Regions from separate parts of the Homo sapiens genome. Here region 1 is linked to region 2. Evidence: fine-mapped expression QTL. A gene starts in region 2. The other region holds a variant in brackets. All regions are shown on one strand. Distances are from middle to middle.

Evidence for each region. PIP is the estimated chance that this variant, and not a neighbour inherited with it, causes the effect.
Region 1: its variant is fine-mapped to the expression of CTNS in lung (TOPMed, PIP above 0.99).

What each region holds. Positions count from the first base shown.
Region 1 is chr17:3,657,099-3,659,900 of GRCh38, forward strand. CTNS (cystinosin, lysosomal cystine transporter) reads left to right here. Exons shown (of 12, transcript NM_004937.3): 10 at 907-1,077; 11 at 2,760-2,802. Among named protein-coding and RNA genes, the nearest start is that of TAX1BP3, 10 kb to the right of the region's middle. The variant C/T (reference allele first, on the strand shown) is at 1,450.
Region 2 is chr17:3,635,499-3,638,467 of GRCh38, forward strand. CTNS (cystinosin, lysosomal cystine transporter) reads left to right here and starts at 1,262. Exons shown (of 12, transcript NM_004937.3): 1 at 1,262-1,333; 2 at 1,609-1,818. SHPK (sedoheptulokinase) reads right to left here and starts at 752. Exons shown (of 7, transcript NM_013276.4): 1 at 554-752. The coding sequence starts at 721. RefSeq lists silencers at 468-527, 1,538-1,627 and an enhancer at 1,008-1,257.

The sequences.
Region 1 (2,802 bases), 22 kb after region 2:
GAAGGGAGGAGGGAGGAGGGCACAGAAGGGAGGAGGGCAGAGGAAGACGCTTGGTTGGGCTCCAAGGATGAGTGAAGTTCCTATGGAGGAGGGGAGGGGCCAGGGTGGGCTCCTGGAGGGGTCAGGTCACAGAGGCCAAGGGGCATTTGAGAGGGACCCTGAGCAGGCGGGTGCAGCTGGGCTTCAGGGTGCCAGGAGGGGGCCCGCGTGCAGGCGGAGACACCTGTATTCAGCTTTGTTGCTGGAAGCCATGGGTGTCGGCAGGGCAGGGCCCCACCAAGGCTGGGTCCGGGGACCCCTGATATGACAGCTTTGCTTTCCCTTCTCTCAGGGAGTTCCCTTCACACTGTAAGGCCAGCTGGGGGCTGTCTGGCCCCACCCGTATGAACCTTCTAGGCTTTCTTAGCTTTTGGTGTGAAGCGAGAGTGAAGGTGGCCCACATTGGGCCCGTGTTCAGGGAAAGGCAAGGCGAGGGGACAGATTCCTGAGATCCTCAGGCTGCTGCCGGGTCGTGGGACGAGTCAGTACCTGGCTGGGAGAGGCACCAGGCCACCAGAGTTCCGACCCCACGTCTCCAAGTGAGTGCTGAGAGGCGCCCAGTTCTGCCAAGTAGGAACAAAGCAGACAGAGCTTGAGAGTCCAAGCAGCCTGAACAGGAGGCCCTGGCGATGAGAAGGTGTGGTTGGTGCTGGGGATGTCCAGCACCAGCCCAGGTGTGATGCTTTCTGTGGTCCACATGTTCCCCTGCCACAACCCCAGTGCAGCCCCCACCTTGCAGGGGCTCCTTCAAGGCCAGGGTCCAGCCTCCGTGCCCCTCTCTAAGCCCGCCCTATCCGGGGCCGTCCTTGCTCAGCCCCGGCGTGGCCTCTGTGTGGGTCCACATCTCTGCCCTCCTCTCGCCCCCAGCGCGGTGGCCAGCGCGTGTCCTGGCCTGCCATCGGCTTCCTGGTGCTCGCGTGGCTCTTCGCATTTGTCACCATGATCGTGGCTGCAGTGGGAGTGACCACGTGGCTGCAGTTTCTCTTCTGCTTCTCCTACATCAAGCTCGCAGTCACGCTGGTCAAGTATTTTCCACAGGTACCTCCAGGGCCCTGTTCACATGGCCGGTGGCAGGAGAGGTGAGAGCTACATGGCCCAGGCCCTGCTCCGGTGGGGCAGCTCCTGCCGGCGTGAGGAAACAGGACGGAAAGCCACAGGGAGCCCGGGAGCCCAGCGGGAGCGGGGCGGTGGGGAGGCCAGCCTGCCGCTCTTCCCCCGGGGCTGGAATCACAGGAGATCGCTAGCGGAGGCCCCTTGGACCCCACGCTCCCCTAAGCATCAGGTGTGCGGGTGGTTCCCCTTCTCCACACCCCAGCCTTTCCTGATGCCTTTGGCTCTGCCCTCACCACTGCCTCCATTTCCACAGCAGGACACTCTGGAGAGGTGAGGTGGGAGGAGGGAGCCCCTTCC[C/T]GCGCAGAGCTCAGCCCGTCCTATGAGCATAGCCGGTCCTCTTCAGATCCGGGGACTCAGGGTCCAGCACATCTTGCCCCACAGCCTGGGACAGGGTCAGGGCTGAAGTTGCTGCACCCGGGGACCTAGGGCCTCATTTAACTCACCCCATTCCCAAAGGGAGAAGCCTTGTTCCAGTGCCCCCAGCCCTGGGAGCCTCGTGTTCTGTGAGCTCAGGAGGGCCAGCGTTCTGACTGGGAGGCAGGACTGGACTCTTAGGCTGAGCAGGACTAAGTTCTGTGGCCAAGGAGCCCGGGCGTTCCGGGCCAGGCCAGCCTGCACAGAGGCTGGGGCGGGACACGGGGCGGCAGTGAGGGGATGTGGCTGGTTGAACAGTGTTGAGCATGTTGAAGCTGGGAAGCTGGGGTCAGGTCCCGGGAGCTGGGGGGGGCTTCCGAGGAGGGGAAGGTTTGGGGAAGTGGGCCCCAGTCCCTGAGGGTGGGAGGGATTGGGGCCAAGAAACCGGGGATGGAGGAGCCCAGGTTGGAGACGTTTGGAACTGCTGGAGGGGCAGCAGCAAGTACGGAAGAGGGTGAGCCGGGACACAGACAGGGACTGACTAGAGGCTCACTGGGAGGCCACCAGAGAGGCCAGGACCTGCCTCACGGGGGGAAGGAAAGGTCACAGCAGTCAGAGGACCCACAGGGCTCTGCAGCATGGGAGGACGTGGGGCACAGGCAGTCAGACTGGGGCGCATCCCCGCAGACCCGCCCCCCCAACCAGACCCAGGAAGCCCCGGCCAGGCCTGTGGGGGGCGTTAACCCCGCTCTACAGACGGGGAAACCAAGGCTAGGAGAACTGTCACTTGCCCAAGACAGCAGGCTCCGGTGATGGAGCCAGGATTCCAAACCAGAAGTCCCACTCCCACCAGTCCCTAAGCACATGAAGTCCAGGCTGAGTTTGGGGACAGCCTTGCCTGGAGGTGAGAAGAAGAATCATAGCTACAGGGAAACTAGCACAGGGCCTTGGCCCCAGGGATGTGGAGGAGACGGGGAAGGCCGCATCGGCCCCGCCTCTGCTGGAGCTGTGAGGTGTGGGGGGTGCGGGGCCTTTGCTTGCTGTACATGCAGATGAGACGCCTACCCCCAGGACCACCCAAACTGTTCCTTGGCTGAGGCCTGTCATAGCCCAAAGGTCACCGTGTCCTTGGAGCCAAGGCCCCAGTGGGAGGAATGAGAACCGCTTTTGTTTGGAGGGGCAGTCACGAGGCGCATGAGGCAGCCGCCCAGCCCTCACCGCCCTCCGTCTGTCTGTCCGTCTGTCTGGCCCAGGCCTACATGAACTTTTACTACAAAAGCACTGAGGGCTGGAGCA
Region 2 (2,969 bases):
CGCTGGGATTACAGGCGTGAGCCACCGCGCCCGGCTGACCAAAGGTTTCTTGGTCCGCATTCTGCTTCTGTGGAATGAGCCAGGAGCCAGTTAGGCCTGATTTGACATCTGATTTCCGGAGGAAAACCCAGACTCTGCCCTGGGCAACAAACTGAATCCTGAACTTGAGGTCACAGGGCAGGTGTGAGGAGCGGAGAGCAGCAAGAGTGAAAGGGAGGCCTGTGGTCATTCCATACACACAAGAGATCAGTTCCTCCAAGGTCAGGGGACAGAGAGCACAGGGATCCAGCGCCAAGCGCAAGGCCCCCAGAAGAAGCCAGAGAGTCGGGGAGGGGGCGGGGGGGAATCGGTCCCAGCAGGTGGGAAGGATTCTGGGACCAGACCTAAGGGATCATGAGCACAGCTGCTGCAGGCAGACGGGCCCCTGGAGAAGCTGGGGACAAGCTGGAATAGAGACTTCATTGCGGGAAGGGCTGTCAGGGAGGCCTCCTGGGGTGGAAAAGGGTGGTCAGGAGGCTCCTGGAGGCGGCGCGGCCCCGGGGGTCCAACTCACCTGGGGCCCGGCCACCGCGCTCTCGACCGCCGCCTCTGCCCGCGCAGCACGGGCACAGCTCGCCAGCACTGCGAACCCGGATGGGTCGTCGGGCGCGGCCCTCAGCAGAGCTGCCTTCACAGATGTGGTGCCCAGGTCAATGCCGAGGGTGATCGGCCGCGCAGCCATTATCTCCCTGACCCGCGCAGCTCCAGTCTGCAGCCAGCGGCCCCACAAGTCCGCGCTCTTCGCCCAGGGGGGCGGGGCAGGGGCGGGGAGTCGCCTGCCAATCTTTCAGCCACACCCAACATGGAGGCTTCTCGTCTTCCCACTGGCCGGGGAAGGCGAGCTTCCACGCAACCTCTCGGCGGGCCCCGGCTATAGGCGGAGAGGCGGCGGAAGGCGGGACCTAAAGGGGGCCCCGCCCCACGGGCTCTGATTTCCGCCCAATGGAGGGCGGTCTGAGCTTCGCTCACGAAAGGAGCCGGGAGGCGCTGGCGGCTCCAAGAGTCTCTGTGTCCCTGGCAGCGGACCTCATCTTCCCTCACGCCGGAGCCCCGATCTCTGCGCCCCGGCCCGACCCAGCTGCGCTCTGTCCGTCTAAGACGCGCGGAAACTACAACTCCCAGAGCTCATCTCGCCGAGATCCGGCCCCACGAGTCAGGTGGCGGAGGTCAGGTGACAGCGGACCCGCCTCTCCCAAAGTCTAGCCGGGCAGGGGAACGCGGTGCATTCCTGACCGGCACCTGGCGAGGCTCATGCGTCCCGTGAGGGCGGTTCCTCGAGCCTGGGGGCGCTCAGGTGAGAGCGGACGCGGCCTCCCCTGTTTCCCAGGCGGACCCCTTGAGGCACAGCAGGTCAGCGGGGCAGCCTGCCGGGGGTCCAGCGCCCTCAGCCGCGGCGGGCTCCTTTCCCCGCCACCAGTGCTGGCCTCGCGACACGGGACAACCCCCGGGTGGAAGGGCCCGAGCGGTGGTCAGCCGAGGCAGGGGCAGCGGGCTGCCGGGGTGGGTGCCGTTCCCAGCCCCTTACCTTCTGCTCAGTTGCCGCCTGGGTCTCGGTTGGGGAATTTGCAGATTGCTTTGGAGACGCTGAGAGAACCTTTGCGAGAGCGCCGGTTGACGTGCGGAGTGCGGGGCTCCGGGGGACTGAGCAGCACGAGACCCCATCCTCCCCTCCGGGTTTTCACACTGGGCGAAGGGAGGACTCCTGAGCTCTGCCTCTTCCAGTAACATTGAGGATTACTGTGTTTTGTGAGAGCTCGCTAGGCGCCCTAAGCAACAGAGGTAACCACTTTATATCCTTGTTTCTCAACCTCGTTATTCCTACCTACCCCCTTCCCATAAAATTTAATACCACTAGTACGCTGTGTATTTGTTTCTGTGGCCACAAACCATTGTAATAGCTAGATTTCTTCACTACCACCCCAAGCCAATTTTTTTTTTTTTTTTGAGATGGAGTCTGCAGCCTCTGTCACCCAGGCTGGAGTGCAGTGGCGCGATCTCGGCTCACTGCAACCTCCGCCTCCGGGGTTCAAGCGATTCTCCTACCTCAGCCTTCCGAGTAGCTGGGACTACAGGCCTGAGCCACCATGCCCAGCTAATTTTTGTATTTTTAGTAGAGATGGGGATTCACCATGTTGGCCAGGCTGGTCTCGAACTCCTGACCTCAGGTGATGCGCTCACCTCGGCCTCCCAAAGTGCTGGGATGACAGGCGTGAGCCACCGCGCCCAGCCTACCCCCAGCCAATTTTAGTCCCACTTGACAATGCGTGCTTTACATCTCCTCATTTAAGTCCTGTGAGGTAGTTACCACCTCCTTGTTTGGCACCACAAGGTCGCATAAGTAATAAATAGGTCAAGCCTGTCTCCAGTGCACACAGCCCTTGCCACTATTTGTGTACCCTCTCCAAAAGCAGGAGACCCAGGGAGTTCCAGGTCGTAGAACAGAGGACAGGACCAACTCATACCTGGCAGACAGGAGCTGCCACACTAGACCCCTAGCCCCAGGTTGCTCCTGGGAAGGGACTGAATGGGTGAGGAGCCTTCTTGAAACATGTGACATCTGAATGAGGCCTGGACAATAGTTAGAACTTACATAGGAAGGGCACGCCAGACAGAGCCCATTGTCAGGAGATACTTCATTTCTATCTTGTAGCTTTCACAAGCCACTAGTTGTATGTAATTATCAATCTGGTTTTTTTTTTGTTTTTTTTTTTTAATTTGAGACGGAGTTTCACTCTTATCACTCAGGCTGGAGTGCAATGGTGCAATCTCGGCTCACTGCAACCTCCACCTCCCGGGTTCAAGCGATTCTCCTGCCTCAGCCTCCTGAGTAGCTGGGACTACAGGCACATGCCACCACGCCTGGCTAATTTTTGTATTTTTAGTAGAGACGGGGATTCACCATGTTGGCCAGGCTGGTCTCGAACTCCTGA